Homo sapiens: one gene and its partners. The protein of the gene in region 1 purifies or fractionates together with the protein of each later gene. This does not show direct contact. Each region holds a gene or a part of one and is shown in the gene's direction. Other genes may lie near its edges.

The links.
Region 2: the proteins of DNAJC15 (region 1) and DNMT1 purify together in Homo sapiens (affinity purification with mass spectrometry, with the first as the bait; one large-scale study listed by BioGRID). This does not show direct contact.
Region 3: the proteins of DNAJC15 (region 1) and LSG1 purify together in Homo sapiens (affinity purification with mass spectrometry, with the first as the bait; one large-scale study listed by BioGRID). This does not show direct contact.
Region 4: the proteins of DNAJC15 (region 1) and TNPO1 purify together in Homo sapiens (affinity purification with mass spectrometry, with the first as the bait; one large-scale study listed by BioGRID). This does not show direct contact.
Region 5: the proteins of DNAJC15 (region 1) and DCAF8 purify together in Homo sapiens (affinity purification with mass spectrometry, with the first as the bait; one large-scale study listed by BioGRID). This does not show direct contact.
Region 6: the proteins of DNAJC15 (region 1) and IARS2 purify together in Homo sapiens (affinity purification with mass spectrometry, with the first as the bait; one large-scale study listed by BioGRID). This does not show direct contact.
Region 7: the proteins of DNAJC15 (region 1) and NSF purify together in Homo sapiens (affinity purification with mass spectrometry, with the first as the bait; one large-scale study listed by BioGRID). This does not show direct contact.

The regions. Positions count from the first base shown.
Region 1 is NC_000013.11:43,072,086-43,075,585, forward strand, and holds part of DNAJC15 (dnaJ homolog subfamily C member 15), read left to right. Parts: intron 1-3,500. UniProt on the Homo sapiens protein: Negative regulator of the mitochondrial respiratory chain. Prevents mitochondrial hyperpolarization state and restricts mitochondrial generation of ATP. Acts as an import component of the TIM23 translocase complex. Stimulates the ATPase activity of HSPA9.
Region 2 is NC_000019.10:10,135,954-10,139,453, reverse strand, and holds part of DNMT1 (DNA (cytosine-5)-methyltransferase 1), read left to right. Parts: intron 1-848; coding exon 849-1,015; intron 1,016-1,444; coding exon 1,445-1,622; intron 1,623-2,173; coding exon 2,174-2,369; coding exon of another isoform or gene 2,370-2,378; intron 2,379-3,166; coding exon 3,167-3,333; intron 3,334-3,500. UniProt on the Homo sapiens protein: Methylates CpG residues. Preferentially methylates hemimethylated DNA. Associates with DNA replication sites in S phase maintaining the methylation pattern in the newly synthesized strand, that is essential for epigenetic inheritance.
Region 3 is NC_000003.12:194,651,692-194,655,191, reverse strand, and holds part of LSG1 (large subunit GTPase 1 homolog), read left to right. Parts: intron 1-2,049; coding exon 2,050-2,463; intron 2,464-3,500. UniProt on the Homo sapiens protein: Functions as a GTPase. May act by mediating the release of NMD3 from the 60S ribosomal subunit after export into the cytoplasm during the 60S ribosomal subunit maturation.
Region 4 is NC_000005.10:72,882,661-72,886,160, forward strand, and holds part of TNPO1 (transportin-1), read left to right. Parts: intron 1-403; coding exon 404-572; intron 573-3,500. UniProt on the Homo sapiens protein: Functions in nuclear protein import as nuclear transport receptor. Serves as receptor for nuclear localization signals (NLS) in cargo substrates.
Region 5 is NC_000001.11:160,228,050-160,231,549, reverse strand, and holds part of DCAF8 (DDB1- and CUL4-associated factor 8), read left to right. Parts: intron 1-142; coding exon 143-253; intron 254-3,500. UniProt on the Homo sapiens protein: May function as a substrate receptor for CUL4-DDB1 E3 ubiquitin-protein ligase complex.
Region 6 is NC_000001.11:220,104,132-220,107,631, forward strand, and holds part of IARS2 (isoleucine--tRNA ligase, mitochondrial precursor), read left to right. Parts: intron 1-1,759; coding exon 1,760-1,929; intron 1,930-2,929; coding exon 2,930-3,020; intron 3,021-3,500.
Region 7 is NC_000017.11:46,695,169-46,698,668, forward strand, and holds part of NSF (vesicle-fusing ATPase), read left to right. Parts: intron 1-3,500.

The DNA.
Region 1 (3,500 bases):
TTTTGGTGGTCTTATTATTCTTATTCCATTGTAGACAACCTATTGTTTTGGTTTTCTTTTGTTGTTTGGGTTTTGGGGTTTTACATTTTGGTGGTGGTGGCTTTTATTTTTAGCTCTGAAAGTTTGTAGGATTTTCTCTTTCTTACTGATGTTCTGGAATTTCACAAGAATTCTTAGTGAGCCCTAACTTATTTGAAAATGGTCTTTAGTTCTGTAAGATTTTCTTACAGTTTTTTCTTTTATTATTTCTTCCTTTCATTGTCTCTCTTTTCTGCTTCTGGAACTCTGAACAGAGAGATGAGAAAGATGTTGGACCTGATAAAAAGATGTCTGTCCTCTATGTCTCTTACCATTTTATCTCTTATTTTCCATCTCCTTATCTTTCTTTGCTCTTCATTCTACAGTATTTTCACAGCTTATTTTCCAGATCACCAGGTTGGCCTTTAGCAATGTCTATTCTGTTTTTCATCTATCCACCGAATTCTTCACATCAGCATTTTTTTTTTTTTTTTGGAGACAGAGCCTAGTAGTGCGGTTGCGCAATCTCGGCTCACTGCAACTTCTGCCTCCTGAGTTTAAGTGATTTTCCTACCTCAGCTTCCTAAGTAGTTGGGATTGCAGGCACTCGTCACTATTCCCAGCTAATTTTTGTATTTTTAGTGGAGATGGAGTTTCACCATGTTGGCCAGGCTGGTCTTGAGCTTCTGACCTCAAGTGATCCACCCACCTCAACCTCCCAAATTGCTGGGATTATAGGCGTGAGCCACTGCGCCCGGCCAACGTTAGTAATTTTCTAACTTCCAAGGATTCTTTCTTGTTTCTTTTTTCTGGCAACCCATTTTTTAATTAATGTGGTATCCTTTTGAATATTTCTAAAGCCATTAATTAGCATTTGGCCAAATTCTCTTCTGCTTCCTAATTTATCTCCTTTTCCTAAAGTCAGTTGTTATGTGTTCATATTGGTTCTTTTTTTCCCCTCCATGATAATTGGGTTTGCTCAAATGTCCAGTGATCCTTGGTTGTTGATTCATATTTATGATGACTAAATTGACTAATAGAAGTAATGTTCTTGACTTTTCTTCAGCAGTTTGGTAGGGTTGCTTCAACAGCTTAATTGAATGACAGTGTTGACAGTGGGCTGTAAATAACATAGGTGGGTTTGTTAACAGGCATGTCTTTCAGAGCAAGGAGACTAGAAGGCAGCATTGGTACCTGGAGAGTCCAGGAGAGGTTGAGCACCGTGTATATTTTACTCCTTGGCATAGCTTCTCACCTCCCTAGGCTTCTGGGTTCTGAAATGGGATCTGCTGGTATGCCTCTTTGGTTCTCTTAGTACCTACCACCCAAAATAAGATGCGTATCAGAAAAAGAGGCATATGGTTCTCTTTCTCAGCCTGAGGGCATGACAGGTACCTGGCCTCTTATGCTCTATATGAGTAGAGTAGGAATGATCTGTTTATATTGTTCTGGTTTAATAAGTTTCGCTGATTTTTTTATTGTTGTTGACTCTGAATTTAGTGTTCTTGTTTTCCTGAAAAGGGTTTCTTTTTTTCTCTGATGTTTGAAGCTGCTGGGATTTTTCTGTACATGCAAATTTTACCTAGGATTTCTTTAAACTTTCTGGTTTGCTATTTATCCCATTTCTTGTTTTCTAGGCCTATTAAGGGTGTTTTAAAATTTACAGTGTCTTTACTCATTTCAAAGGCACTTCGGAAAGCAAAAGATCTTTATGATTCAGTCTGCTCTTTTGAACAAGTGCCCTTTTGCTTGTTTTTTTGTTTTTTTTTTAAATTAATGTATTAATGTATATTATTGACTCAGCCAATGTCTAATTACCCTTAAATTTTTTTCTGGGGGAGAAAACCCATCCTTCTTCTTTTTTTTTTGAGGCTTTGAATTTTCTATTTGTGAATCTGTCCTTTTATTTGAATATAATTTTTTAAATTGCATTTATTTTGTTTTATGATCAAGTGAAATTTATGGAAAAATATACTAATTAAATCATCCTTTGTTAGCTTTAAATCAAATAGATTATTGTACATAATAAAGTTTATAGTTTATGATAAATGTATTCTTTTAAAACTATGGGATGATCCAGTTCTTCTCTAGTTGTCTGGAGGACTTTTGTGTTTCAGGCTATTGAGTGAATGAATTAGCTAATGAATACTTTGGTTTAACTTAGCAAAGGAGACACAAAATAATCTAACATGGCACTATAGCATTTATTGCTAATTTTAGAAGGAAAATGATTTTGATTTCTGTCATTTATATATACAATATTTTATGAATGGGATAGTACAAAATAATCATTTGTAAGGTCCAGGATGTGTTTCTGTTTTCAGAAAAAAAGGACCATTTACTCCATCTATTTGATGGTATACTTGTTCCTTACAGTAATCTCATTTTTTGGATCTAAACATTTTCTTTGACCTACCACAGTGTTGTCAGAAAATGGTTCTGCAGTGGCTTATACCTGTAAGTCCTAATATAATGCAATGTGGGTATATTATTTTCAAGCTTAAAAGGACCTTTCAGTTTTATTAGTGGGGAGGAGTACAGAGTTACAATTTTGTGCTTTCTCATGACATAGATATTAATTCAAACATAATAATGGATTAAAATACTGTGATAACAGTTTTGTTCTATTTAAAGTTATATAAGACCTAAATTTTCTAGAAGTTTAGGAAGCATGATTTTCTCTGAAGAAATGTGTAAATACAGTTGACCCTTGAACAACCTGGGTTTGAACTGCACAGGTCCACTTAATCATGATTTTAAAAAATAAACTCAATGAGCCCTCCATGTCTGCAATGAAATGTAGATCAAAAATGTAGTATTCATGGGATGCAAAACTCACCTATGCTGAGGCCAACTTTTTGTATCTGTGGTTTCTGTAGGGCTGACCGTGGTGCCTGAGTGCAGATTTTAGTATGAGTGGTCCTGGAACCAGTCACCCACAGATACTGAGGGTTGAATGTATTTTAGTAGTGTGTAACATAGCAATTTTTTGTTTTCTCTTTGTATACTTTTCTGCACCCAGCCCCACATGTTAAGTCTCTATTCTCAAAATGGTCTAGATCTTTTTGGAAGGGTTGTGTTGATTATATGTATATACAGATTGACTTACTCGTAATAAAATCAGTGTTCATATGAACTTCTTCCCGACACTAGATTTTTGGCAGCCTTTTCTGAAACTCTATGTCTACCTGGGCAAAACTGAAAGTGAAAAAATTGCTCAGATACCAATACCTGCTTTTAAGATTAATGAGCTTGGTGACTATAGTGGGAATGACAGTTTATGAAACATGATAAATTTATCTTTTTTATTATGCTGGCTCCAAATTTTAGAGCTCCCTAAGGTAAATAAAGACTCATTGAAATATTTTTTTCCTGAATAAAGAATTATTCTATGTAGTAGTTCAGGCATGATTTAAAAACAAAAGTAGGAGCAAATATTTGGTGATACTTCTGTTTTGTTATGACTAAATCAACTAATTACC
Region 2 (3,500 bases), on another chromosome or scaffold:
CATGCCTGGGAGGGCTGGCTACAATGGGCTTCTCGCCATGCAGCTCCTGGCTCCTTTCCCTCGATGGGGAAGGGTGAGCAGCCCACCATGGAGCACTGTGGAATGGCTGAGTCTGCACAGAGCGGGAGGGGAAGTGAGGTGCGCAGAGCCATGTGTAGGCGGCAGCTGTTCGATTGGTTTAAAAGACAGTTTTGCTCTGGGTAACTGCGCACACAAACCCCCACAGATGGCCGAGGGTTGCACTCCAGGTGGCTGTGTCTGCAGGGACAGGGATGGACATAGTCTGTGGGGCCCAGGCCTTATCTGAAAAGCATCCCCCATCCTCTCTGTATCAGCTCAGCAATTGAGGGCATAATTAAAAATGAAACAGCTATCCAGATGCTAGCACAGGATGTCTGCCTAAGTGGGCAAGCACTTGGCTACCCGGTCCCCTAGCTCAGCCTCAGGGCGACTCAGGCTCACCAGACAAGACTTGTTGCAGCCACGTTCTCTGTCCTTGTGACCACAGCCATCAGGGAAGCGACAGGGCTCCTGGTCTCCAGTGTTCTCCCCGAGTGCTAAGACCTTGGGGCCCTTGCAGTGCTTTCAGAGCTGGCCGGACTTCCCCGCAGGGTTTGCTCCCACCTTCCCCAGTGGCTGTCCCCTGGGCTCAGCTGCTTTTGTTCTTTATCTGCTCCAAACTCCTCTGACCAGGAGCACGCCTGCTGAGGTAACTGGGGATTTCTGCAAGTGCACTCCGCATTGGCCAGCCACTCCCGACTCAGGCTGCTGACCCTGGGCCTGGGTCTGGCCAGTCCAGTTGGGAGTGTCCCACTGACGGTGGGGTTGTCCGTCCTTCTCCCCCACAGGCCGGTCAGTACGGCGTGGCCCAGACTAGGAGGCGGGCCATCATCCTGGCCGCGGCCCCTGGAGAGAAGCTCCCTCTGTTCCCGGAGCCACTGCACGTGTTTGCTCCCCGGGCCTGCCAGCTGAGCGTGGTGGTGGATGACAAGAAGTTTGTGAGCAACATAACCAGGTAGGTGGCCCCCGTCGCTCCTCCACACACTGCCGAGCAGGCCTCAGTAGCTCATGGGGCCCGTGAGTACTCCCTGGTGAGGCTTGGGGAGGAGAGGATGGTACAGCATCTGCCCTGCCACACGGTGCTCTGCCACATGGCACTCTGCCACCTGTGGTCTCCAGTTCTGACCCTGCATCATCTGCTTCCCTAGTAGATAGCATGTGCAGAGCGGCCAGCCGCATGCTTGGCTGTGGTCATCCACAAAGCCCACGCCATAGCCCCATCCCCCCTTCCAGATGGCATCCAGGCACACTGCCACCCATGTGACCTCGGGCAGTGCTGTGATCTCGGGAGAAGGCCATCTGAGCAGGCAGGGGGTGGCACCTGTGATGAGGGGACAGCTGCTGCGTGCATCTCCAGAGGTGTTGACCTCCTCCTCTGTTGCAGGTTGAGCTCGGGTCCTTTCCGGACCATCACGGTGCGAGACACGATGTCCGACCTGCCGGAGGTGCGGAATGGAGCCTCGGCACTGGAGATCTCCTACAACGGGGAGCCTCAGTCCTGGTTCCAGAGGCAGCTCCGGGGCGCACAGTACCAGCCCATCCTCAGGGACCACATCTGTAAGGTAATGGCACCCTGACAGAGCGGCTCCTCCTCGAGGCCCAGCCCAGCAGCCTCGTGGGAACAGTCAGCCTGCCCAAGACTCAGGGGAGACATGGAATCTGATCCCAGGCTCCTCCTCCCGAGTCCTCAGCCTTTGTGTGACCCCTGGTCTCTCTTGCATGGTCATGGGAAGTGTCAGAGCTCCCGCAGTCCTGGACTTGGTCTGGAATGGTGTCAAGCCACTGCCCACCCACCACTGCCTTCCCCCTTGCTGCCTCTCCCCGCATGTTTTCCCAGGATGCCAAGACCAGCCCTTTCACCATCCCCTGGCACCACTCCCCTTCCCCCACCCTAAAGGCTCAGCTTAGATTCCCACGCTCTCCTACACCTGCGCTGCCTCAGGTCCCTGCCGTGGCCTCGAGCCAAGTGCGATATCCCTGACTGTCTCTTTCCCGATGGGCGTGAGCCCCAGGGGGCTTCCTGGTCACCATGGTGTTCCCAGCTCCCAGCCCACCATGGATGCTCGGATGCTGCTCACATGAGGTGACAGCTGGGCCCCCCACACTCTTTCAGGACATGAGTGCATTGGTGGCTGCCCGCATGCGGCACATCCCCTTGGCCCCAGGGTCAGACTGGCGCGATCTGCCCAACATCGAGGTGCGGCTCTCAGACGGCACCATGGCCAGGAAGCTGCGGTATACCCACCATGACAGGAAGAACGGCCGCAGCAGCTCTGGGGCCCTCCGTGGGGTCTGCTCCTGCGTGGAAGGTGGGTCCTGTAAGTTGTGGTTCCCGGTGGGCTGAGGGGAAGGAAGGCAGAGCCCTGGGCCTTTGGCCTGTGAACCTGGAGGCCAGGGCAGGGCACAGACACACCAAGCCTGGGTGTCCCAGAGAAGGTAGCTGCTGACCATGTTGAGTAGTAAAAGCAGGCTGGGTTCATGGCCCACACCTATAATCCCAGCACTTTGGGAAACCAAGGCGGGAGGATCACTTGAGCCTGGGAGGTTGAGGAGGCTACAGTGAGCTGTGATTGTGCCATTGCACTCCAGCCTGGGAGACAGAGTGAGACCCTGTCTCTAAAAAGAAAAAAAAAAAACAATAAATAAATAATAAAAGCAGGTCAGGCACGATGGCTCACCTCTGTAATCCCAGCACTTTGGGAGGCCAAGGCAGGCAGATCACTTGAGATCAGGAGCTCGAGATCAGCCTGCCCAACATGGTGAAACCCCATCTCTATTAAAACTACAAAAATTAGCCGGGCGTGGTGTCGCACGCCTATAATCCCAGCTATTTGGGAGGCTGAGGCAGGAGAATCGCTTGAACCCCATAGGCAGAGGTTGCAGTGAGCCAAGATCATGCCATTGCACTCCAGCCTGGGCAACAGAGCGAGACATATAATACTAATAATAAAAACAGTGCCCAGAGAACGAGGATTGTTGGCTGCTCCACCCCAGGGGGCCCCTTGCACAGGAGGTGCCATCTCTGCCTCCCAAAGCTCTAAGAGCCACTGTCCCAAGCCTATACCCCATCCCACAACTGCAGCCTCATCACTGTCCTGTCTTCCAGCCGGCAAAGCCTGCGACCCCGCAGCCAGGCAGTTCAACACCCTCATCCCCTGGTGCCTGCCCCACACCGGGAACCGGCACAACCACTGGGCTGGCCTCTATGGAAGGCTCGAGTGGGACGGCTTCTTCAGCACAACCGTCACCAACCCCGAGCCCATGGGCAAGCAGGTAGGTGGGGAGGGGGCATCCGAGGGCCTGGGTCAGGCCCTGTACTTGGCGGCCTAACTAGGTGGAAGTGTGGGTTTAGCCAAGTGGGGGACAGCACCCCAGGACCCCAGGCACCTGGCCTCTGCCTCCTGCCCCTCCACGTCCACGGGACAAGCTCATAGGCCAAG
Region 3 (3,500 bases), on another chromosome or scaffold:
AATGTCAGTGTCTGGATTAACAGTGTATAGTTTATGGAAGATATTCTTTCCTCCTTTTTAAGAGTGAGGCGCCATTTGCTTCTCCCAAGTTTTCTGGACTCTGCTGTTTTCCATGATTTCTCAGGTTGTGAAGTCTTACTTGTAACTTGATACTAATATCTGTAATTTGGGTATCAAACATGAATGTATTAGAAGTAGCCTGATATTCACTGTTTTCTTGCCTGGAAGTTTGGGTCATCTTCTATAGTTGTTCAACTTCAGTTGTTTGAAAAACGTGAATGTTCTGAAAAAATGTGACATTTTTCAAAAGACACAGGCCAATTCTGAGTTGAGTATCTCTGGTTTCCTTTGGTCACCTTGAAAGTGCACTGTGTTCCCCGAAAGCTTGACTTTTTCCTTCTTTCTTTTAATTTTTAACATAATTACGGCAAAGTCCTTTGATTGTCTTTAGTACTTTTCCTGAAGCTGAACTGCTCCCCGCTGTAGTTTTTCTACTACACATTCATGTTCAGTTCACATTCTTGTTTTTATGCTACTTTCATATTTGAAAATGACTCAAAAGAGCCCACAGTGACGACACTGACTTCTTTACCTTCGCTGCTCATTTACCATAGAAATTGCTTCCAGTTCTATATTTCTCTCATAAGCCAGGGTTCTTTTTGAGTTGCCAGGCTTGATTGTTAAATCATACCTATTTTTCCTGACATTTTGTTTTTATTTCTGCTTTCTTAAGATTTAGGATACATGTTTGAGTTCATCGTGTCCCCTTCTGTGACTGTTAATCATTCTAACAAAGCTACTTGGAAATGATACCAGGTTTCCATCACTTTCAAGTCCCGACAAATTCACCCTTATTTCTGCTTTGTTGTCAAGAGGGATTCAGAAGAATTAACACACCCTTGAGTAGAAAATGATTTGTACCTTTCACTTTCCAAAGGGAATCTTTCATCAGTAAATAATTTCCACATGTGGAGTTGAGTTTTGCTGCCACATTTCACACACAGGGATCTGTGTGTGCTCCATGGTGCTTTGACTTCTAAAAGCAATTATGAGAGAAGAGCAGATTTCTTTAAACATGCCAACCACCGTCTTTAAAAATACAAATGTAAAATGAACTGCAAATGGCAAAGTCTGCCCTTGCTTTGTGCAGAGAGGAGTATGTTAAATGTGTTGTTGTTCCTGAGAAATGCTTTGTTTTATCATGCAGCCCATTGCAAAATAACGTACTGTCAAGAGTTCAGTTTAACATAAGCTTTTCCCCTTGCTGTCTTTGAAGAGTTTTGTTGTTGTTGTTGTGGTGGTGGTTTTCTGTTTGTTTTTGTAGACACCCAGTCTTGCTGTGTTGCCCAGACTGGTTTTGAATTCCTGGCCTTGAGCGATCCTCCCACCTCCGCCACCCAAGCGCTGGGATTACAGGCGTGAGCCGTAGCACCCGGCCTAGAGTTATTTTAAATTACAAAAGTAATACATGTTCTTTGTACAGAGTTCAAATAGTACAGAAACATATAAAGTAAAAAGTGAAGGGAAGGTCCAATTCTCCCCTCCAGGAGGGCGCCACCCTCGATGGTTGTCTGTCACGGCACTGAACTGAAAGGCTTTCGTTGTCTCCTCCCTGTGTTCACCTTTCCATCTCCGTCGAACTTTGCTTGTCCCCTGTTCATCTTTTTTTTTTTTTTGTGAGACAGAGCCTTGTCTGTTGCCCAGACTGGAGTGCAGTGGCACCATCTCGGCTCACTGCACCCTCCGCCTCTCAGGTTCAAGCAGTTCTCCTGCTTCAGCCTCCCAAGTAGCTGGGATTACAGGTGTGCACCACCACGCCTGGCTAATTTTTGTATTTTTAGTAGAGGCGGGGTTTCACCATGTTGGTCAGCGTGGTCTCAAACTCCTGACCTCAAATGATCTGCGCACCTTGGCCTCCCAAAGTGCTGGGATTACAGGCTTGAGCCACCACGCCCAGCCATCCTCTGTCCATCTTACAACTCATTAAGTATTTTTACTAGAGTGGAAACTGCAGTTATATACTTCTGAGCGTTTCTATTATTTTGTCAGGAAGAGGCAAACAGAGATGATAGACAAAGCAACACAACCAAGTTTGGACATTCCAGTTTCGACCAGGCTGAAATTTCCCACAGTGAATCCGAACATCTCCCAGCTAGGGATTCTCCTTCACTTAGTGAAAATCCCACAACGGATGAAGATGACAGTGAGTATGAGGACTGTCCAGAGGAGGAGGAAGACGACTGGCAGACGTGCTCAGAAGAAGACGGTCCCAAGGAAGAGGACTGCAGCCAGGACTGGAAGGAAAGCTCTACTGCAGATTCTGAGGCTCGGAGCAGGAAAACCCCACAGAAGAGGCAGATACACAATTTTAGCCATCTGGTATCCAAGCAGGAGTTACTGGAGCTCTTTAAGGAGCTACACACTGGGAGAAAGGTGAAAGATGGGCAACTTACGGTCGGACTGGTAAGATGACATATGTCATAACATTGTTACCACGTGATTGTCTTTAATCCCCATTTTTCAGTAGCTGCACGACCCCAAAGACCAACCAGGCTTCCGGCATCGTAGGGAACATTGCCCTCTTGTTGCCCACTGGCATCACGGGATTAGGCAGTGGGATAGACAGAGCCCAACTCAAAGGAATCAACTTCCTCAAGGCCTGTGTTGGTAACATACCTATTCACATTGAATGTATTCTCCAGTCTCCTTTCAGTTCAGCTTTTCCTGCCGTGTGAAGTACCAAGACAGCAGAATGAGAGAGATGTTAATGTTGTCTTCAGACTTCAGCCCAGTGTTCTTTGGGCACCCTGTGATCCTTGCCAGCTTATGCTGTAAATGTTCCAGATGCTTAATAGGGAGAATCCCAGCATCTTGGGGCTGGACGAAATATGACAAATGCATTAGTTGCATAAACACTGCATAGTAGATAGGGGAAAGCAGATCCCATCCCCAGCCTTACATACCCTAATTCCAGAAGTGGCTGCGGAAGTGCGCAAACCCCGAGGGGCTACGACATGGCTCTAGATGGCCCCATCCTTAGCTAAGGAGATGTGAGATGTTAGAGAAGGTATTGATTATAAAGACCTATCCAGAATATAACAGTGAGGGAAAGGAGGTCATGGCATGTTTAAAGTCTCCCAGCTTTTCAGTTACATGCTAAGTGTAGCTAATCCTAGTTAGTTTTGAGCCCCCTTCTCTCTGCCCCAACCCCCTGCCCCAAAATGCCTGTTTAAAATGACTACAGTAGATTAGCATCTTATTTTAGTGCAGTAGTTAAAAGAGCTGTCTGTGGAATCAGACAGACCTAGGTGTAATTCCCAATTCAGCAGTAGAACTAACTTGTTAGGAACACGGGGAAAGTTGCTTAATGTCTCTGAGCTTTAAAGCTTCATTCTCTATATTGTTGCTAAAAATTTGTATCAGAAAGTTCAGCTTCTCTACAAGTTTTCTCACATTTATGGAAAAACTGAGCATCCTCCCTCATTTTCTGAATTTCTTAC
Region 4 (3,500 bases), on another chromosome or scaffold:
GAAGCATAAGTTTAAGTAATGATAAATTCTTGCTTAATTTGGTACTAGATGGTGACATTGGTAGGGTTATTATTAATTTCCCCTTAATTACTTGGAGTTATTTTAAAAACATTCTTATATATGCTGCTCTGAATTTGATTCAGGTAACTTAGATTATACCAGCCAGTGGAGGCCATGTAGTTGGCTGAAAGGGCCGTATAACCTAACAGGTGTGTTAGGTCAGTCTATTCGCCCCTCCATAAGGAATATGTTCTGTACATGGGCGTGGTTCTTAATCACTCTGGAAGTATATTTCAGAATTCTGTGCATGACCCCATCTCTGGATATTCTGTTTCTCTTACTCATGTACATACTATTAGCCTATAATGAATGCCACCAAAAATTTCTCTTAAAAAAACAACAGGGTGATGTTGAAGAAGACGAAACGATTCCTGATAGTGAACAGGATATACGGCCACGTTTTCACCGATCGAGGACGGTGGCTCAGCAGCATGATGAAGATGGAATTGAAGAGGAAGATGATGATGATGATGAAATTGATGATGATGATACAATTTCTGACTGGAATCTAAGTAAGTCAGAAAGGGAAAAGCACAGTTGCCTACTTTGATGATAACTTTATTGGGGTATAATTCATCTACTGTACAGTTTACTACCCATTAAAGTATACATTTCATTGGTTTTTAGTATATTCAGAGAGCTGTTCAACCATTACCACAATCAGTTGTAGACTATGTTTTCATCACCCATACCCTTTAGCAGTAACTCCCTATTGTTCACTGGCTCTGGGCAACTACTAGTCAATATTCTGTCTCTGGGTTTGCCTATTCTAGACATTTCATGTAAATGGAGTCATACAATGCATTGTCCTTTGTGACCATCTTCTTTAACTTAGCATAAAGTTTTCACGGTTCATTTTGTAGCATTCACTTGTATTGTGAAATAATATTTCATTGTAATATGCCACATATTCTCCATTCATTGGTTGGTGGACATTTGTGTTTCTCTTTTTGTAGCTGTTGAGTTGTGATGCTATAAATACTCATGTATAATTTTTGTGTGTAGACTTTTTTTGTTTGTTTGTTTGTTTTTTTGTTTTGAGGCAGGGTCTCTGTCACCCAGGCTAGCATGATTATGCAGTGGCGCAGTCATGGCCCACCGCAGCCTTGACCTCCCTGGGCTCTGGTGATCCTCCCACCTCAGCTCCCCAAGTAGCTGGGACTACAGGTGCTCACCAATACACCTGGATGAATTTTTGTTTTTTTTTTTTTGGTAGAGACAGTTTTGCCATGTTGCCCAGGCTGGTCTTGAACTGTTGGGCTCAAGCGATCCACCCGCCTTGCCCTCCCAAAGTGCTAGGATTACAGGCGTAAGCCACTGTGTCTGGCCCAATGTGTATTCAGTTCTCTTGGGTAAACACTCAGGAGAAGGATTGTTGGGGTCATATGGTAACTGTATGTTTAACCTTTTGAGAAATAACCAGGATGTTTTCCAAAGTGACTGCACCATTCTGCTTTCCTAGCAGCATTGTCTGGAGGGTTCCAGTTTCTTCACATGCTCACTTGCTTTATTATCTCTTTATTATTATAGTCATTCTAGTGGACGTGAAGTGGTATTTTGTGGTTTTGGTTTGCATTTTCCTGGTGGACCTGCTCTTATTTTATCATTATTATATTCTTAAACTACCATTTCTCAAAAGGCTGTTTGTTTTAATACTGTAAGAACATTGCCACAAGCTTTTTTGGTTTTTCTAACATGAGTGTTTTCTGTCTGGTAATTTGCATGAAAATTGGCTATCATAGGTAATTCTAAAATAATATAAGTTGCTTTATTATATTCAAATTTATTATAAGTTGCTTTGTTATAGTCAAAATTTATGAAATATGCTTCTTAAAATATGTTAATTTCCAACCTTAGCTGCAAATCATATCACCTGTGGAGCTAGCATTCTGGCCCACGCTTCCTAATTGGGGATGAACCTAAACACCTGTGTTCTGATTTTGCTTGCTTGTTTGCTGGATTTTAAACCTCTACTGCTCTAGTTCAGGGTTTCTCAGCCTTGGCACTATTGGCATTTTGGGCCACATAATTCTTTTTTTTTTTCTACATGTGAATGCCACATCATGCATGTAATTCTTTGTTGCGGAGGCTGTCCTGCACGTTGTGGGATGTTAAGCAGCATCCCTGGCCTCTACCCAAAGATGCCAGCAGCACAAACACAGTTGTGACAACCGTTATCTCCTGGGGGAACAAAATCAACCCCAGTTTAGAGCCACTACTCTAGTTCAAAGTGTTGGGATTTCTAATAACTATGATTAAAGCAGTTAAGAACAGACATTATCAGTCTGGGCTGTGTTCTTCATTTGGTTAGATAATGCTAATTTCTCTGTTGCCTCTTCAGTTTCCTGTAACTAACATTCTATTTAGAGTGCCTAATGTGCCAGGCACTAGGCCAAGGACTTTGCATGCATATCAAAGTCTGTTTAATCATAAGTAAGAATAAAGTCATATTTAACATTTCCAACAACCTTGAATAGGCAAGAAAACTGCAGAAAGAGAGATATACCCAAGGTTAGCATAGCTAGTACTGATAGCACATCTAGTACTGGGACCCAAGTCTCACTTGTTAAGACAACACATGGTGTTTACTACTATTACAAATTACTTCCCAGTGTATCCCTACTTTCAGATTAGGGGAGCAGGATGGCTCAAGATCATTACACAGAAAACTCTACAAAATAATATACATACATGGATGGGGGAACACTTCCTCTTCACATCCCATTCTTTGTATCCTTCCAAAAGCTTTTCTGTGCGTGCTTGGGAAAACATACAGGCATCTTTTTTAGAGGAGAAGCCAGTTTTCTAAAAGTGAAATCAGATTATATGTACTCTGCTGCTTTCTTTCTGTGTATCGTATGCCTCATTCTTCCTCAGTACATACAGATTTAGATTTCCTTTTGTTGCATGTCAGTGTACTGTTTAGTTGTATGGCTCTACCATGTGGTATAACTAAGATCCTTATTGATGGGTAAGGTGTTAATTTCTGGCCAATGTAATGGTTTTGTTTTGGTTTGGTTTGGTTTTTTTTTTTTTTTTTGAGGATTTTATTATTGTCTAGTAGTTTGTGATTAGCCATTTACTATGCCTAGTTCACGTTGGAAATTTCTGATATTTTCTTAGTCCATTTTGTACTACTATAACAGGATACCTGAAGTTCAGAATGGAGGGGCTGCATCTGGTGAGAACCTCCTTGCAACATCATCTGATGACAGAAGGACACACTTAAGAGCTCAATTCACGCTTATAATAAGCCAACTCTCTTGATAACTAACCCACTCCTACAGTAACGACATTAACCCATTTATGAGGGCAGAACCCTTAAGACCTAATCATCTCTTGATAGGCCCCACCTCCCATCTTCGTTGCTTTAGGGATTAGGTTTCTAATACATGAACTTCAGGAACACGTTCCTACCCATAACAGTTAAATGATATTTT
Region 5 (3,500 bases), on another chromosome or scaffold:
AGAGAAAACACAACAATTCTTTCTTTCCAAATGAGAATCTCTTTGGTTTCTTATTAGCCATGTGACTCTCTTGGCTCTCCTTTGCCATGACCATTTGGATCTTTTGGAGTATATAACTTTCTGTGCTTTTCTACTCTTAAAGGAAACTGGTGGTGACAAAAGAGAAAGAGAAGAAAGTGGGGCTGTATACGATCTATGTGAATCCTGCCAATACCCACCAGTTTGCAGTGGGTGGACGAGATCAGTTTGTAAGGTGAGTTTGTGGCTCTTTTGTGTCTTTGACAGTTTGTAAGACTGATGCATTGTATACTACCAGGTGCTCCTTTATGGAGAGTTACGAATTTTATAGGAATCCATTAACTATTATCTTGAATTTTTTACCGTTTTCCAAAAATCTTACACGCCTTTGGAGATGTTCTGTTCTCTAATGTAACAGTCTCTGAGGGGTGACTTTACATATTTTAGAGATTATCAAGTTTTAAAGAAGTTAGATGATGGTCAGGTGTAGTGGCTCACACCTGTAATCTCGACACTTTGGGAGGTGAGGCGGGTGGATCACCTAAGGACAGGAGTTTGGGACCAGCCTGGCCAACATGGCAAAACTCTGTCTCTAAAAAAAAAAATACAAAAATTAGCCAGGCATGGTGGTACATGCGTGTAGTCCCAGCTGCTCAAGAGGCTGAGGCAGGAGGATCACTTGAGCTCAGGAGTCAGAGGTTGCAATGAGCCAAGATTGTGCCACTGCACTCCAGCCTGAATGACAGAGCGAGACTCTGTCTCAAAAAAGAAAAGAAAAGAAGTTAGATGAATTGACCAAGGTCCTCACGTGGCAGCTAAGCCATAAATTTAGGTTTACCAGCAAGTACTATATTAGTAAATAATCTACCTTTTTCGTATGTAAATAAACGTGCACTAGAAATTTTAAATACTGGTTTTCAATTCAGAAATAGTTTGACTTGGGAGCACTTAGTGTGAACTGAGGGTTTTTTGGCTCTCACTGTCCTGAGCTACCACTTTTTTTTATCCATAGTGATATCTTTGTTACCGTGAACACCTTTTGTTAACACTGGCTCTTGAGACATGACCTAAGGAAAACAGACACTGTGGATTCAGTCTCCATATGTATTAGTTAATTTCCTCTGACCCTTAGTAATAAGCTGTATCCATCCCTATCCAGTTGGCCTATTTTAACTATGTTTCTTTGGGCTCATCAGTTTGAAAGGAGAGAGAGGGGCAAGATCACTAGAAAAATGAGTGACTTTTTGCTTTCCTAATGGTAAGTGAAAAGCATCATCTTCCTTTTGAAATGAGAGCACATTTTATAGCTATATTTCCAGATTCATTTTATTAATAAGAATCATGGGGAATAGGGTAAATTTTTAGAAAATACATGAGATGACTTTGCCTTGTTCAAGAATCCTGGACAAAACCTTGTTTCTCTCTTCTTCCCCTATTCCCATGCCTTCAAAATTCGTTTCCTCTAGTCACCAACAGTCCTTAAATGTGTAGCCATAGATTTTTTTTTTTAGACAGAGTTTTACTCTTATTACCCATGCTGGAGTGCAGTGACACAATCTTGGCTCACTGCAACCTCCGCTTCCCGGGTTCAAGCGATTCTCCTGCCTCAGCCTCCCGAGTAGCTGGGATTACAGGTGCACGCCACCACGCCTGGCTAATTTTTTGTATTTTCAGTAGAACCGAGGTCTCACCGTGTTAGCCAGGCTAGTCTCGAACTCCTGACCTCAGGTGATCTGCCCGCCTTGGCCTCCCAAAGTGCTGGGATTGCAGGCATGAGCCACTGTGCCTGGCCAATTTTTTTTATTTTTAAATAAGAAGCTGTTGATCAAAAAGGGTTGTAGTTTGTATAGATTTTCAGTTGCTACCTCCTCCAAGTTGAGCATTCACTGAAATTTTGAGTTGAGAGTTCCTACTTAGAGCTCCAGATTACTTGAAAAGTCTGTGTCTCTAACAAATTCCACCACTAGGACCAAGATGTTTGGAGGGGAATGTAGTAGTTTGCTGTATTGAGAACTGTATTCATATGTATGTATGTATTCATATGTATTCATATGATATGTATATCATATTGCCTTAACCCAAAGCTGATACTTTCCCAGGGTTAGAGTAAGGCTTAGAGTTTTAGCATTTCAACACAAGGAGAAATACTCAAATCTTCTGTGTCTTATCAGCCTCAATATTCCTCTATTGGCTATTTACTGGGCAGAAGTTATGTGAAGATTTTTGTTTTTTTTTTGAGACAGAGTCTCACTTTGTTGCCCAGGCTGGAGTGTAGTGGCTCGATCTCGGCTCACTGCAACCTCTGCCTCCTGGGTTCAAGTGATTCTCATGCCTCAGCCTCCCAAGTAGCTGGGATTACAGGCATGTGCCACTTTGCCTGGCTATTTTTGTATTTTTAGTAGAGATACGGTTTTGCCATGTTGGCCAGGCTGGTCTCGAACTGTCTTCAAGTGATCCACCCACCTCGGCCTCTCAAAGTGCTGGGATTACAGTCGTGAGCCACCGCGCCTGGCTATGTGAAGATTTTGAGGCACGCTGATCCTACACAAGCAGGTAGCCCTTTCAGCACTCCAGCTCTTCTCTGACATTAGGTTACACTCAACTTCTCTGGCACCTCTCCTGTGCAGCCAACTGAATGTTTTGAGGTTTCTCCTTTCTTATTCTTCCTTTGAAAGAACCCAAACAGCTCATCTTCTGGTATAAATTTGAAAACATTTTTGCTGAATATTATATATCATAACATCATTAACTTTCACTCCTAGCCTAAAGGAATTACTTCAAGGGAATATAGAGAAATAGCTTACTGATCCTCAAGGCTTTTGCATCATTAATACTGAATTTTAGTTTAGGGTTATTAAAAAGTATTTAAGGGAAGCTCTGGGGAGACATGCTTTTTGGCCTGTGGCCAAAAAAAAAAAAAAGGTAAGTAGAGGAGGTATAGGTGTGAGTCCCTACTACACCTGCTAAGCTAAGCTAATTCCTGCTTAGCTTAGTTTTAAGAATTTATAGGGGTAAAGAAAAAGAGAATATATCAGGTGAATCCTTTAGTGGTAAATTTGGCTGACATGAAAATTTATTGCTAAAGGATTAAGTATAGGCCCTGATTGATGAAGCACAGTCAGTAAATCATCTCTTCATTCCCCAGTTCTTAAGCCAACATCAGCAACACTGAGAGAACATTAGATTAAAGGCAGGTATAGAAGAGAGACTTAGGGTAACAAGTTAGTGGGTGCCTGAAGGCATGTGGGAAGAGATGTGGTAAAGGTGTGCACACTATTCCTTACGTGACTTAAAATGTCAAGGGGCTTGGTGTGGTGGCTCATGACTATAAAACTAGAGCACTTTGGAAGGCCAAAGCTGGAGGATAGCTTGAGGTCAGAAGTTCAAGGCCAACTTGGGCAATATAGCAAGACTGTGTCTCTACCAAAAAAAAAAAAAATTAAGAAAAAATTTTAATTTTTTAATTAATTAAATATCTCCAG
Region 6 (3,500 bases), on another chromosome or scaffold:
CCCGGCTAATTTTGAAAAAATATTTTACAGAGATGAATTCTTGTTGTGTAGCCCAGACTGGTCTGGAATTCCTGGGCTCAAGTGATCTGCCTGCCTTGGCCTGCCAAAGTGCTGGGATTAAAGGCGTAAGCCACTGTGCCTAGCCCAAAATAATTCTTTGTGAGCTATAATTTGGGACTTTTGAGGTAGTGACTGCTTTGAAATATAATTATGGAAGTCTAGGGAAGTTTAAAATTAGCTTTTTGTTGTTGTTGTTCTTCATTTTGTTTTGAGACGTGGTCTTGCTCTGTTGCCCAGGCTGGAGTGCAGTGGTGCCATCTTGGCTCACTGCAGCCTCTGGATCCTAGGCTCAAGTGATCTTCCTGCCTCAGCCTCTTGAGTAGCTGGGACTACAAGTGTGTGCCACCATGCTGGACTAATTTTTAATTTTTTTGGTAGAGATGAGGTCTTGCTACATTGCCCAGGCTGGTCTTGAACTCCTGGCCTCAAGTGATCCTCCTGCTTTGGTCTTCCAAAGTGCTGGGATTATGGGCATGAGCCACTGTGCCTGGACTAAAATTCTATTTTATTTTATTTTATTTTTAAAGAGATGAGGTCTCACTATGTTGCCCAGGCAGATCTTGAACTCCTGAGCTCAAGTGTTCCTCCTGCCTCTGCCTCCCAAAGTGGTAGGATTATAGACGTGAGCCACCATGCCTGGGCTAAAATTATCTTTGATCCTTAGGTATGATATATCTTTTAATTTCTTGCTAAAAAATCTATCACATGAATAAAGATACAAAAACTGCCTAGAAAGACTGCCTAGCTAAATAGGAAAGCCCTCTAAATTAATCAGTTCAGATACAAGCCAATGAGAAGTTTAAACAACCTTAACAAAAATAAAAAGATTTTTATGTCAGAGGCAGGAAAGGAGCTTAAGAATTTTGAAGACCATTTGGTCCTCTTTGGTGCAATAGGGTAATAAAAATAAAAACCAAGATAATAATTTACTTCACACCCTCTCTCACTGTGTTGCCCAGGCTTGTTTCAAACTCCTGGGCTCAAGCAATCTTCCTGCCACAGCCTCCCAAAGTGCTGCAATTACAGACATGAGCTACTGCACCCAGCCCCCTGCTCTTTTATAAATGCAGAGGATATTAAAGACTTCATTGTCAAGTTATACATTATCATAGAAGCTAAAAATCACAAGATTTTTGAAAGTGTTAAGGTTGAATTTAAAGATCTTTTGTCTAGATAGCATAATTGTTTCAAATTCTTACTATCAGATAATTATTGAGTTGCTATTTGAGTCACCATATTGTGGAGGAGTATATATATTATCCCTGTCAAAATAAGCTGGTGTCACGTAGCTACTACTTATTAAAGTAGTAGGAATGTTGAAGAGCTAAAAATGAAGTAATTTGTATGGGGTAGGTTTTCTTTCCGGAAAAAAATGAATTATTTCTTATCAATTACTTAGAGATCATTTTGGGAGGGTGGTGAGGGAGAATATTAAGTGGTAGATGCAGTAAGTATCAAAACACTTAAACTACATTAACTCTGTTTATTCTCACAGAAACCCTCTGAGGTGGGAACCATAATTATCTGCATTTTATAGATTATAGAAGGTCACAGAACAAGTTAAAGGGGAAGCTGGAATTTAAGCCTAGCCAGTATTGTTCTAGATTCTGCACATTTAACCTGATACTCTATTGCTAAGCTTAAGGAGATAGATTTGCCATATAAAATGATTCTTAATAGTGGTTTTCTTTCCCCACAGGTGTAGATTTGGAAAATGGTACTTGCAGTCATCCATTAATTCCTGATAAAGCCTCTCCTCTTTTACCTGCAAATCATGTGACCATGGCAAAAGGAACGGGATTGGTTCACACAGCCCCAGCTCATGGTATGGAAGACTACGGTGTAGCGTCTCAGCACAACCTGCCCATGGTACTGTTCCTCTTTTATCATTTTTAATTATTCATCTTAATAAAAGGAAATGATAAATTCTAACCAACATCTTCATTTTTTAAAAATGATGACTTTTGTCATCATAATTGTGAAATGCTCAGGTTTGTGTAGTACTCTAAAGTTTCATTAATTCGTACTAATTGAAAAAGATTTCCCAGAATTAATAGAAAATTAGCACTTTAGAATTGAAGAATATATATCATGGGGCACTTTTAAAATACTTTTTTTCTAGTATCAAGTCACATAGACAAATTACTTTTATTCCCTGAAAAAGCCTGTTTGTTTTAGCTAAACAGTCCTTTCTACATTTACTTTACATACTTCAGTTACTTAGCAAGTATTTCCGTTTAGTTAAAAGGTGAGTCAGAAAGGGAACAACTGTGTATATAGGCATAGATTTGGAAACAATAGAGACCACTCAAAGATGTTTTAATATATTTTGTTACTTTTGTTATTAAAGTTTATGGATATGCTTCAATAACACATTTTGGCTTTGGTGATTTAAATGTATAAAATTCACAAATTCCTATTTCCTTTTCTTTTCTTTTCTTTTTTTTTTTTTTTGAGAGGGAGTCTTGCTCTGTCGCCCAGGCTGGAGTGCAGTGGTGTGGTATGATCTCGGCTCACTGCAACCTCTACCTCCAGGGTTCAAGCGATTCTCCTGCCTCAGCCTCCCGAGTAGCTGGGACTACAGGTGCACACCACCATGCCTGGCTAATTTTTGTATTTTTAGTGGAAGTGGGTTTCACCATGTTGGCCAGGCTAGTCTCAAATTCCTGACCTCAAGTGATCTGCCCACCTCGACCTCCCAAAGTGCTGGGATTATAGGCCTGAGTGCCGCGCCCGGCCAAGTACCTAGAATTTCAATGTAGAAAAAGACCAGGCTATACTGAGATGTTTTTATATATATTGTTTTGCCAGATATTGTCATAAGAGAAAATGTCTTGATATTTTAATTGTTCAAAATGATACTTTATAGGATTGTCTAGTGGACGAAGATGGAGTTTTCACAGATGTTGCAGGTCCTGAACTTCAAAACAAGGCTGTCCTTGAAGAGGGAACTGATGTGGGTGAGCATCATATCTGTTGATATCATACATGTTTTCTGAAAAGTAGGTAGCAGTAACCTTTGCTACCTATTTTCCCTCCTTATACTTTAACAGAAACAAAAAAATAAATTATGTCTTGTTTTGCCATATGTTTTAAAATGGAGTTTGGGACTTTTTCATCTTTTGCTTTGAAGCTGCTTTATTTAAGCAAGTCAGGGCAGTCAACAGGGAGTGAAGTTATTTTAGGGCTATGGAGATAATAATCAGCAGTATTACTTTTGTGGAAGGATACAATCAAGATCAGGGCTGGATGTTGACTGTAAATTACACATTCCCTACTCACTTTTTAACCCTTGTAAATAACTGACCTATATGGCATGATTTATGTATTAGAATCTTGGGAATCCTCCAGCCTTGAATTGTCTTTCTGTCTTCCTTTACAGATTCAGAGACCAAGTGCTATGAAAACCTTTCTTTGCCCACACTAAGACTAAGGCTATT
Region 7 (3,500 bases), on another chromosome or scaffold:
CCAGGAGGCAGAGCTTGAAGTGAGCTGAGATTGCGCCACTGCACTCCAGCCTGGGTGACAGAGCGAGATTCCGTCTCCAAAAAAAAAAAAAAAGTTGTAATATGTCAGAGGAAGTGGGAGTTTCCACGTACTAGAATTTTGGGGGCTGCTTTATTCAGCAAATATATTGAATAGTTGATGTGTTCAAGCTATTGGGCTGGAGACATAAAGATAATTGTGAACTCTTCCCTCAAGGAGTTCAGAGTCAGGAAAATGGACATATTTTCAAATTAGTACAATAATATTGTAGTTACCATGGTAGAAATACGTACTAGGATACTTTTATTTTGATAAAGTGCTCTTGATCTTCCATCTCTTCTCTCCTTTAGGTTTTAGTTACCACCTGTAGACAGATTTACTGAACATATCTGTCTCCTACTTTCAGATTTGTACTAAATACCCTCACCTAGATGTTTTATCAGGTCTCAGATTTAATATTGCAAAACCAAATTTATTGTCTTTTTTACTACTTTCCTTTCTGCTCGCATTTCCCTGTTTATCCCAATTTCCCAGGCTTAAAACATCAGGATTATCTTTGATTCCTGGCACTCTACTGTGCCCTAGGTCAAGTCACTTGCCAAATTTTTTCAGTTCTGTCTTGGCAGTGCCTTTTAGTTCTCACTGCCACTACCCACCTTCTCTTTGATTAACCTTCCTGTATCATATCATTCAACCATTCAGACACTTTCAGTGATTCCCCATCATTTACAAAACAAAGTACAGGCTTCTTTTGGGTCTTTTGGGTCCTCTAGATCTGACCCTAACTGGCCTTTCCAAATGTGCTCCTGATTATTCTCCACATACTTCAGCCAAACTTAAATAATCACCGGTCATCAGACATTAATTTATTTTTCAACATCTCTGCTTTGGTTTTGTTTTTTTTGCATCACTGAGGATCTTCATCCTCTACGTTTACCTGTCTTTTCAAAACCTGGCTCATATGCTACCACTGTCCTCACACCTTTTCACATTTTCCCTTTCAAGAATGTTATACCCGTTTCCTTCTTGAAATAGTAATGTATCATTTATGGTACTGTCAGTTGACTTTGGTTCACAGTAGATTTATTCGGCATCTACTGCATGCTAGACCCTGTGCTAGGAGTTAATACCCCGACTGCAAAGAAGTAAAGTACCTACCATTAAGCTGCCCTCAGTCTAACCCTCCACGTGCAGTAACAGAAAGTACATGCAAGGCAAGAGAGTGAACTCATGTCAGATATGGTCAACTTGTGGGGTGAGAGAAACCTTCATATGCATGTCTGTTGGTAGAGCAGGGCCTTTTAGGTAGAGGGAACAACATATGCAAAGAAGCAGAGACACAGAATAGCATAGTGCGTTGGAGTAGTTTAGTATTGCTTCAGCATGGAAGTTAGGGGAGGGATGGTAGAGAGATTGTGGGGGATAAGTCAGGAGACTAAAGTAGGGATGGAGCACAAAGAGCCTTTTATACTCTGCTAAGAAGTATGGACTTTTTTTCTGTGAGTAGTGCTAAGCCATTGAGTTTTAAGAATAGCAGTGACATAGTGTTAAAACATAAGATCACTCTGGCAGCTCTGTCGAGTGGAGTAGTTAGAGGAGTGGAGTTGGCGACACAGGACAAGAGGGGGAGCTTTTATAACAGTTCAGGCAAGAAATAAAAGCCTGAACAGTTAGGTTGAGTATGTAGATATTTGGGTATATCCTATCACTGGTTCTAGACCAGGAATCCAGCCAACTACCAGTTTTTATAAATAAAGGGCTTTTTTGGAACAGTACACATTAATTTGTGTACTGTCTATGGCTGCCTGCATGCTACAGTGGCAGAGTTGAGTATTTGCAATAGGGGCTGCATGGCCCACAAAGCCTATTTTAGTGCTTTTATTTTAGGTACTATCTGCCACTTTACAGAAGTTTGCTGGCCCTTGTTCTAGACTTTAAATCCTTATCTTATTCACCTCAGAGTCTCCCATAGTACCCCAGATAGATCTAAATAATGAGCACATGGTAGGTGTCCAGTAAATTATTTTTCTTTTTTTTTTTTTGAAACAGAGTCTTACTCTGTCGCCCAGGCTGGAGTGCAGTGGCACAGTCTTCGCTCACTGCAACCTCTGCCTCCTGGGTTCAAGTGATTCTCCTGCCTCAGCCTCCCAAGTAGCTGGGACTACAGGCATGTGCCACCACGCCCAGCTAATTTTTTGTATCTTTAGTAGAGATGGGTTTTCACCATGTTGGCCAGGCTGGTCTCAAACCCCTGACCTCGTGATCCGCCCGCCTCAGCCTCCCAAAATGTTGGGATTACAGGTGTGAGCCACCATGCCCAGCCAATATTTTTTAAATGAGTAAACTTACGTAACTATTCTGAATCACGCTCTATCCATAAGTCATAATTTCCCTACATAATAGAGGTGGATTTGTTCTAGCTCAAGAATGCCAAAGGTTTGGATGGTGTGGGAATATTGTATTGGGTCTTTATATAATGGATCCATTCAGGGACTATGTTTTTATTCTTCCTTGTTTGTTTGTTTTGAGACGGAGTCTCACTCTGTCGCCCAGGCTGGAGTGCAGTGGTGCAATCTCGGCTCACTGCAAGCTCCACCTTCCAGGTTCAGCCATTCTCCTGCCTCAGCCTCCCAAGTAGCTGGGACTACAGGCACCCACCATCACGCCTGGCTAAGTTTTTGTATTTTTAGTTGAGATGGGATCACCGTGTTAGCCAGGATGGTCTCGATCTCCTGACCTCGTGATCCGCCTGCCTCGGCCTCCCAAAGTTTTGGGATTACAGGCGTGAGCCACCATGCCCGGCCATGCTATACTGTTTTAATAAGAAGAGATGGCAACTTCAAGAAAAATGATGTAAACAGTGTGAAAACTGGTCCCTACCATACTGATCTTTCATCTCAGACCACATGGGTGCATCTTGATGTAATCCACAGTAACTAGTTTACTAGTTGTCATATTTTTCATATGTGTTGGCCATGGAATTTTTCTCTTATTTAGTCATCTGTCATTTTAACTACAATAATCCTATCCCAAAATTTCACTTTAAGCCGTTGTCTCAGTAAGAAACATGCTTTCTTCAAGCATATATTGGGTTTATCTACATATGAGGCAATGAGGGATGGTGGGAAGATCGCAGATATCGTAGTCAGAAGGTGTGGTTATGCATTATATTTCTTCCACCTTTTTGTTTCTGACCTGTCAAGGGGAGACACTACCTATCTAATCAGATTTTTATGAGAATGAAAGCAAATACTTTATATAAAAGTGCCTTGTAAACTCTATAAATGCTAGTTATCTCCATTTTTTTAATTGGCTGATTTGAGAGGATATCAGTACTTTTCAATATATGAATTTCTGATTTTTATTGACTCTTTGTAGTTACACATTTTCTAATTGTAAAGCTAAAATGTTTGTCACCCTTGTACATAATATATTATCCTTCTGATTTGCAAGTAAGCAGTAGTGCAAATAGTTCATGTTTC